Linked DNA regions of Homo sapiens: regions 1 and 2 are each linked to region 3. The links come from fine-mapping of genetic effects on gene expression. A gene starts in region 3. Each other region holds a variant in brackets. All regions are shown on one strand. Distances are from middle to middle. Region 1 overlaps DTX4 (deltex E3 ubiquitin ligase 4). Region 2 has its middle 36 kb from the start of MPEG1. Region 3 holds the start of DTX4 (deltex E3 ubiquitin ligase 4).

The links. PIP is the estimated chance that this variant, and not a neighbour inherited with it, causes the effect.
Region 1: its variant is fine-mapped to the expression of DTX4 in whole blood (TOPMed, PIP above 0.99).
Region 2: its variant is fine-mapped to the expression of DTX4 in prefrontal cortex (ROSMAP, PIP 0.95).

The regions. Positions count from the first base shown.
Region 1 is chr11:59,192,959-59,195,718 of GRCh38, forward strand. DTX4 (deltex E3 ubiquitin ligase 4) reads left to right here. Exons shown (of 9, transcript NM_015177.2): 7 at 2,250-2,411. Among named protein-coding and RNA genes, the nearest start is that of MPEG1, 19 kb to the right of the region's middle. The variant A/G (reference allele first, on the strand shown) is at 1,765.
Region 2 is chr11:59,247,145-59,249,904 of GRCh38, forward strand. No RefSeq gene overlaps it. Among named protein-coding and RNA genes, the nearest start is that of MPEG1, 36 kb to the left of the region's middle. The variant GA/G (reference allele first, on the strand shown) is at 1,144.
Region 3 is chr11:59,170,676-59,173,435 of GRCh38, forward strand. DTX4 (deltex E3 ubiquitin ligase 4) reads left to right here and starts at 1,457. Exons shown (of 9, transcript NM_015177.2): 1 at 1,457-2,131. The coding sequence starts at 1,921. LOC124902601 (basic proline-rich protein-like) reads right to left here. Exons shown (of 2, transcript XM_047427951.1): 1 at 2,590-2,760; 2 at 1-2,055. The coding sequence ends at 1,247. RefSeq lists enhancers at 594-1,134, 1,221-1,515, 2,143-2,760, 2,414-2,523 and silencers at 1,394-1,963, 2,024-2,073.

The sequences.
Region 1 (2,760 bases), 22 kb after region 3:
TGACTCATGTTCTTTCGTGTACCTGAGATAACTTTTACTCCCTATTTCCATGAGTACTTATTTCTCCAGGCCAAGCTTAGATTACATCAGAGTCTGAGATCTCCCTGATAGCTCCCAACCTCTCACTAAGCAAGAAGTATGTCTGGATTATACGTCTGTCTGGTCTGGTCTATACGTCTCTTACTGTGGGAAAGAAGTAGAGGTAAGAGAGGTGGGAGACCTGAGCTTGAATCCTGGCTTATTAGCTGAATGACCTTGGACAAGGTTTTCCAATCTCTGAGAGAGACTTTCCATCTGGAAAATGGAGATTAAAACTATACCTACTTTATGGGGTCTTATGCTATTATTATTCAAATTGATATCGCCTTTGTATTAAAGGCTGTAATTTTTTCCTTCATCTTCATGTAGCCTATTTGATTGAAGTTCCCAAAGTGCTTTCTTGGTGTCCCTGAGAGACATGCTTATAGTGGTGGTCAGTCATTGATGGGGGATGCAAATCTGGATCACTTGCTCACTTTCCCAACCCTGGGCTAAAAGGATTCATTGGGATCTTGCATTTCAAGAAGTTATTTTGGGCTTAAAGGGGTTTCTTAGCACATTTGTTCCCTATTTGATGTCTATATTCAAGAAGAATATGGTAACTCTACATTTATTTCCATGGGGCTTTCAAAAATGTTTCTCAAGAGTCTATGCTTTATTCTCTTTTGCACTAATACTTTGAAGCATGTGTTTTTATTTTATCAAACACATGAGAGAAAAGGGCCCAAGAAGAAAGGAGTGATTCACCCTAGGTCATGAAGCAAGTCAAGGCCAAAGCAGAAAGTGGGAACCTGGTTTCAGAGAATAGTCACCCTGAATACGAGCTATTGCTTTAAGCGAGTAGACTGGAGAAGTCCCTAAATAGCTCAGCAGAGGATCCCTGTCTTCCCGAGGAGTTGGGGATGTCCTGGCAAGCTTTCATCCCAGCTGCGCAGCAGCACATTTTACACACGTTGCTCCCAGCCCATGCGCCTTCCTTCTCTTTGCCCCTCCTTTTTGCGAGCCTGGGAATAGGATTCGGTGTCCAGGCCCTCCTCCAGGCAGCACCTCACCAGGTCCTGCAGTGAAACCGTCACCCTGTACACCCCTGCATCCAGAACTGCCTCTTCCCACTAATGGAGCCACCGAGTTGCAATGCAAAGCTGGGGGTTTAAACAGACCCCACACCCTGACAAGCAGGAAGTCCTTTAATCTTGCTGTGCCTCGATTTTCCTCTCTACAAAAAGGGGCTAATAATTTCTTCCAGGCCATTGTCAGAAGCTAAAGCCTAAATGAAACAAGAAATATTAAACTCTTTATAGTATGATTTAAAGCACTATAATTACTGGCATCATTCTCTCTTCTAGGTATTTGTGCAGACCTTACACTCTATCCTTCTAAGCAAATTCATAGCTATTCTTCAAGGACCATTTTCTTAAAGTTATCCTCATTTACTCCAGCTCTTAGTGGCCAATTTCTCTTTTCATAGCAGTAGTTTCCAAACCTGTATGAGCATCAGTCTTTCCATGGAAATTATAAAAATGCTAATAACATTTAGATACACCACATGCTAAGATCTTCCTATAGATTATCTCATTTAATTCTCCCAACAACCCGATGAGACAGATATTTTTTATCCTTCTCCTATAAGGGAAACTGAGACTCAGAGAAGTTAATTAATTTGTCCAAGGTCACACAGCAGTCAGATGGCAGAGCTAAGAATTACGTCTAGGCAGTCTGATTTTC[A/G]CATTCACAGCCTGAAACATTATGCTTTGCAGCTTCCCAGTTCTTACTCAGTGGACCCGATGTGGTGCCCAGGCATCTGTGTGATTAACAAGCTCTGTGGGTGATTCTGATGCTCAGGAACTGGGCAGTTGCTGCTCTCCAGGTCTTTCTGTCTGTTCCACCCATTTGGTACTGAGTGGCTGAATAATGACTCCCTGTGTAGGCTCCTGCCCTAGAGAGCTGGTCCCCTCCTCAGGGACAGGGGCTTCTCTTACATATCCCTCAGCATGGAGCATGGGACCAGTTGTGGAATTTACCTCCTATTACTTTGGAGAAAGCAGAAATAGCCTAGGTGACTGGGCTGGGAGGGAAAAACTAAGATCTATCACTCACCAGGGTGCATTTTGTTCCCCTGGCCCTTCATCTCTGGTACCTTTTGGGACTGGGTGGGAAAGTTATTACCAAAACTGTTTCCCAATCTGGCTCTTCTGGCCTTGGCCCCTCAGGATGGAAGTTTGCAGTGTCCAACCTGCAAGACCATTTATGGGGTGAAGACAGGCACCCAACCTCCAGGGAAGATGGAGTACCACCTCATCCCCCACTCCTTGCCTGGCCACCCAGACTGCAAAACCATCCGGATCATCTACAGCATCCCCCCCGGCATTCAGGTGAGCCTTTCTCTCAGGTGAGCCTTTCTGTCACCCCTTGGTTTTTATTGTTCTATGTGTTTGTAGGTAAAAAGTTACATATGAAGAGTCTCCTTCCCACACTTTTCCGCCATCTACCCAGCCTTGCCCGCTGACACTACATCCCCCGACTCAACACTATTGTTCTGACTTTCCTATGTATCCTTCCAGGATTCTTTGTGCACACACAACAGAAAATCGCATCCACCCTTCCCTTTTTTTTTTCACAAACAGTGACATTTAGGCACATTGTTTGGCACCCTGCGCTTTTCAGTTAACAATGTAGTCTGTAGATCTTTCCACATCAGTATAGAGAGAGCTTCCTCGTTCT
Region 2 (2,760 bases), 76 kb after region 3:
GAGCACCTCTGGGCATCTTGGGTAGCTACCTGTGCTCAGGGATAAAGAAAATGCCAGCTTTGTTTGGGTACAGTTGATTTCCATTGGCTCAGCTTCCATGTTATTCCTAGTTCCTGGTGTGGTTCCAATAATATATCCCTGGAGTCAATGCAATCTGAGACTGGTTTTTGGCTCCAAAATATGTGACAATTTCAGACAATAGCAGTTACCTTTGTAAAGCACTAGATATTTTACAGAACCCTTCTGACAAAGATAGACAGAGAGAGAGAGAGAGAGAATTTTAGGAAAACAATAGTATAGTTCAAAAGTAGAATGGATAGCCCAGAAAGCTTTAAATTTCTCATCACTGGACGTGTGTAAGCAGAAGATGGTACACTTGACAGTGACAGGATTTAAGATTTAAAAGACAATCTGAATTAGTTAACCTTATGGGTTCCTTAAAATCCTGAGATTCTGATTCTGTGAAACAAAAAGAAAGAAGAAAGGAGATTGACATGTACTAACATTTTTTATTGTGTGCATAGGGCCTCTTGTAACACTTTATTTCATAATATCCTCATTCCTCCATACACCACTGCCCCTATAAGGACCTGAGAAATGGATGGCAATTTTTTTAAAAAATCACCTGATAACACTTATCTTTCAAAAGATCAGTGGGCAGGGAGTTTAAAAGAAAAATAACCTCTTGCTGTTTGACTAAGGCCAGATTTCCCTCATGTACGTGTTTTGTTTTTGATTTATCAAATATCCATCTTGAAAATACTTGAAGTCTATTTGTGTGTCTTGGGGAGGACATACAAGAAACAGAAGGAAGTGGGCATTGTGTAAACCCACAGCACACCACAGCTTCTTTCAAGGATTTGTGAAAGATGGTGGCCACACCCTGTTGATGTTGGCAGCTCTTCAACTTGCATCCAGATGAGAAAAATGTTACAATTTCCCTTCTCCACCCAAAACCCCATCAGCTTCTCCTCTGCCAGGGCCAGAGTCTCCTACTGTGAAGCTAAACAAATTATACTCCCTCCTCGAGTTCCCAGCTCTGGGCATCATGCCTACATTCTTGGGGTCTCTCTCTGAGGCTAGATATTGGAGAAATGATTACTATGGCCAATTCAGTAGTTTGTAATTAAATCTTTTTTTAGG[GA/G]AAAAAAAACCCTAAACCTAAAGAATCCTCTTTTTTTTTTTTATATATCTTATTGCATACTGAAGGGTGTGAGGATAGTAAACTAGAAGACTATGGTGCTTTACAATTCCTGCCTCCCTTGCTCCCACCTTCAGAATGGATTGTTCTTTAATACTACTTGAAACATTATCGGTAGAATCAATAGAACCCTCTTTTCATGTCATCTCCAACTCCAAGAATTTTTTTGTGGGGGGACTCAGGCAATTTTAAACTGATTGTTCATAATTCGCCTTCAGACTCTCTCAAATTCAATTCTTCCTCCTTAACCTGCAAATGGACCTCCTTAAAGCACAGATCCAATCATGTCATTTTTTGCTCAAGAGCGTTCATTAGTTTTTTTGTTCACTGATGGCCTGATGACATCCAAATTCCTTATCCTGATCCTCAAATCTGTCACTGCTCAGTGATGCTTAATGAACATGGCATGGAACTCAAAGAGAGAAAATATAAACAGAAGGCCATTGATTTGGCAAGAAGGAAGGGAGGTGTGGTCTTCCCAGAGCAATTTCAACAGAATGGTAGGGGTGGAACTCATTGGTCTCAGATAGGGATATCCGGAATGGAGCTCAGAGGGGATTTGAACAAGGCCAGGTACTGACGGAAGTTATGCCAGTTTAGCAGTGGAAGGAGAGAAGAAAATGGAAGAGTAGGTACAACAGCTGGCAATGTCAAACGAAGGAATCCTCAAGATTGAGGAAACTCGAACAGGTTTCAAGACTGCTGCAAAGGCTTCAGTGCTTTTCAGAGAGGGATACTCTGAGGCAGTGGTTTTCTGCCTTGGCTGCTCACTGGATCACAGCCAGTCATTGGTAGGGCCAGAATTTAACTAGTGCCTACAGTCACAGGAAAAGATAGCTGCATGAGAATGCAGGCAAGTGGTAATGGAAAGAACAAAGAACCCAGAATCAGGATGAGAGAGGCTTAAAGAGGGAGGTGGTGGCACAGAGGACAAAGTTGTAGAATTTTATACTTTTGCTTAAAGCAGGTCTTGTCTGTCTTTGTAAATAACTATTTTAGCTCATTGAAAGTAACATAAACATTCATTTATTTATTTTGCTGTAACCAGAATAAATAGGAGAAGATGTTCTCCGAAATCTGTTCTCAGTCTTCAGATAGACTTATAAACCAACCTGGTAAAACCTAGAAAATAGTTGCCCAACCACATCTGTAGGGCATCTGTGGCCTTCCACCCATAGTGCTTGCTGTCTGTTCTTTGAAGAGACTCTGATTCTTTGATCCTGCTTGGAGTGATGGCGGGGGTAGGCCCTCTTCTGGGAAGCCATAATAATATGGTATCCCCTGCTGAGAGAGCCCACCCTGAGCTTTTCTTTGAAAAGCTTTCTGAGACCAGGAACACGGCAAGCATGGAGTCATTGGGAATCATGTATCCAATTGACTCTCACGCATTGCGACATCGAGTTATCCCTTAAAATAGACCTGGAAATAGCTCTGAAAATTATCCAGAGCTGATGTGACTTGGGAAAAGTATAATTACCCTGAACTTGCTTGATCTTGAAAGTGGCATTTTGTTGGCAGGGCTCGATCTCAAGGAAGAGAGGCAGTTGTGGCTGGAGGCG
Region 3 (2,760 bases):
TTAAATTCCTTAAGTCCTGTCATTTGTAAAATGGTAATAATAATGGCCTATGATATAATTAGTCGAGGTATCCTTGTTTTCTTTTTGTTCTTCTAATTCTGAAACTCGACATTTTAATGAGTGGTATTGTTTAGGTTGGATTAGGAACAGTCCCCAAATAAGGGAGAGGCCGACTAGGCATTTTGGAGGCCAAGCTGTGCAAGAAGACCAGAAAGAACAAAGCTCAGAGGTTCCTTGAGCCTGGTGCCTTTAGGGGCCTGAAGAAGAACAGATCTCACACTTTTTCTTTTGCTTTGTATTTAGAACTCTGTTGGGAGAAAGATAAAGGTAGAAGGATGCAAAATTCTAACAATGGGAGAAATGACAGCTGCAAGGAGAGGGAGGGGGAAGCAACTCTTCTAAAACATAAAAGGGTCATATGATATTTATGAAAAAATTGATTATTTCAAAAAGATTCACAATCCCATTCTCTAACACATAATCTATTTTTACTTTCCCGCATCCTATAACTTGGATCTTGATAAGACTCGATTCGTTGTTTTATGTGGTTTGCAATCTCAACAAAACAAAATTTGTGTTCTTTGACAAGGATAATGCATAATCCTGACTTCAGTCTTCCCTTTTAGTCAGAACCTACCTATTTAAGGTTATTTTCCATATTAACTATTGATGATCAAAATAAGTCTAACTCGTGTTTTTCCTAGTGTTTCATAATTTTAGTTACAGAAACGATGCAGATAAAATTAATCTAACATGCGTCTTCCTGACTCTAGTACGTTGAATCTGGCCAGAAAAACCACATTTGCTCTCTACGTAGGTAATATAAATCCATCATTAGCGAAATTGCTGCATCCCTTTGGACTGGGTCTCATTAGCAGAGGTTGGAGTGGCCACTGGCCGGCACACGACACTTTAGGCCAGCAGGGGGCGGGTAAGCTCCAGGGCACTCGCCCGAGCAGCAGGGGGCGTGTCTTCTGCTTCCTTGACGGACAGCTAAGGATGCGGGAGAGGATGAGGTAATAGGAGCCGGGGCAAGGAAGGAGTTGGGGTGCGCGCGCGTGTGTGTGCGACTGTGAGTGTGCCAGTGCGTGCGCAAGCCCCGAGACAATGCGTGTCTCCAGTTCGCGCTGCGGACACTGATCATGCTGCATTAAGGAAAAAAAAAGAGAGAGAGAGAGAAAATTACATTTGGGGGAAGGAGGCTGCAAAGTTGCGGCTGGGCGACAGTGGTGGTCCCGGGGCCGTGTCATGGCGGGTCGCTTCTCTGCATCAAGGAACCAGGGAAACACACGCGGGCGCGGGTTTGCCTTAGCGCCCTGCTTGGGAGGGGTGGTTCATTCTGGAAGGAACTGAGCAGAGCCACAGGCAGGGGGAGCTCTCCCAGCGGCGGGGACTGCAATTCGTGCGGCGAAGGGGTGGGGAGGGAGGGAGAGAGGGGAGGGGACCAGAGCGTGCCATTCCGAGCGCGGCCGTGCGGCGAGATCCCACCCCGGCGTCTGCAGAGGCCGAGGCGCAACTGGTGCGAGGGCTGGGTCCTTGCCTCGCCGTCAGCCCCAGCTCGCGGCCGCCGGGGCTCGGGCCGCGCGCCCGCCGAGTGGCTTTTGCAAGGCGGGGGCCTGTTTGCAGAGAGCCGGGCATTTGCATGAAGCGACTCGACCCCACAGAGCAGCGGCAGCAGCAGCGGACCCCGGCGGCGGCGGCGGCGCGCGGTCCCAGCCAGGCGGCCCCGGTGTCCCGGCCCCGGTGGATGCACGGCTGGGGAGGAGCCCATGGGCCGGAGCTGAGGCTGCCCGGGGCGGCGGGGCGCGGGGCAGGGGGCGCGGTCGAGGCCCGGAGGCGGCGGCGCAGGAGGAAGCGGAGGAGGTCGGGCGCTCGGGGCCCGGGAGGCGGGCCGCGCAGCGCCGCAGCCCCGGGCTCGCCATGCTCCTGGCCTCGGCCGTGGTGGTCTGGGAATGGCTGAACGAGCACGGCCGCTGGCGTCCCTACAGCCCAGCGGTGAGCCACCACATCGAGGCGGTGGTCCGCGCCGGCCCCCGCGCGGGGGGCAGCGTGGTGCTGGGCCAGGTGGACAGCCGTCTCGCGCCCTACATCATCGACCTGCAGTCCATGAACCAGTTCCGCCAAGACACGGGTGAGCCAGCCGCCCCTGACCCCGCCCCGCCTGCTCCCACCTTCCCAACCTGCCAAGGTACCTCCCTCCCTGTGAACCCACCTTGGCCACCTAGTCGGCACTTCTGTGCAGCAGTGTCACCAAGAGGTGGTGGTGGGAGGCGATTCACTCCGCTGAATCCTCGCAGGATCCTCCCTCCCCCTTAAACATCCATGCAAATAGTATCAGTGTTGTGGTTTTGCAAACCCAGCTTCAACCTAGTCGGTAACAATCCACTCCCCACCCCTTTCATGCCCCCGCTTTTCAGCAGTTGGTGGCCCTAAGTCTTTCTATGTAGAAATTCTAGGGCCGCCCCAGACTACAGGCAATCCCAGCCCTTCGCAAAGGCTTCCTGCCCTCATCCCGTGGCGGCCGGCACCTTGGCTGACCTGACCCTGTTTTGCTTCAGGCACGCTGGGGCTTGCCACACGTCCCCTCACCCCCGATCTCACTGCCTCTGCGTCTCCTGTGTGGGATGCCTCCCCGCAGCTGGGTCCTGGGTGTGGGAACTGGGGGAGGAAGAAGGGATTCCCCGGAGGTTCTCGCTACAGTCGGGTAAGGGAAGCGCCGGGCTCCCTGGGAGGAGAGACTAGGGCTGGGGTACCCTGGAC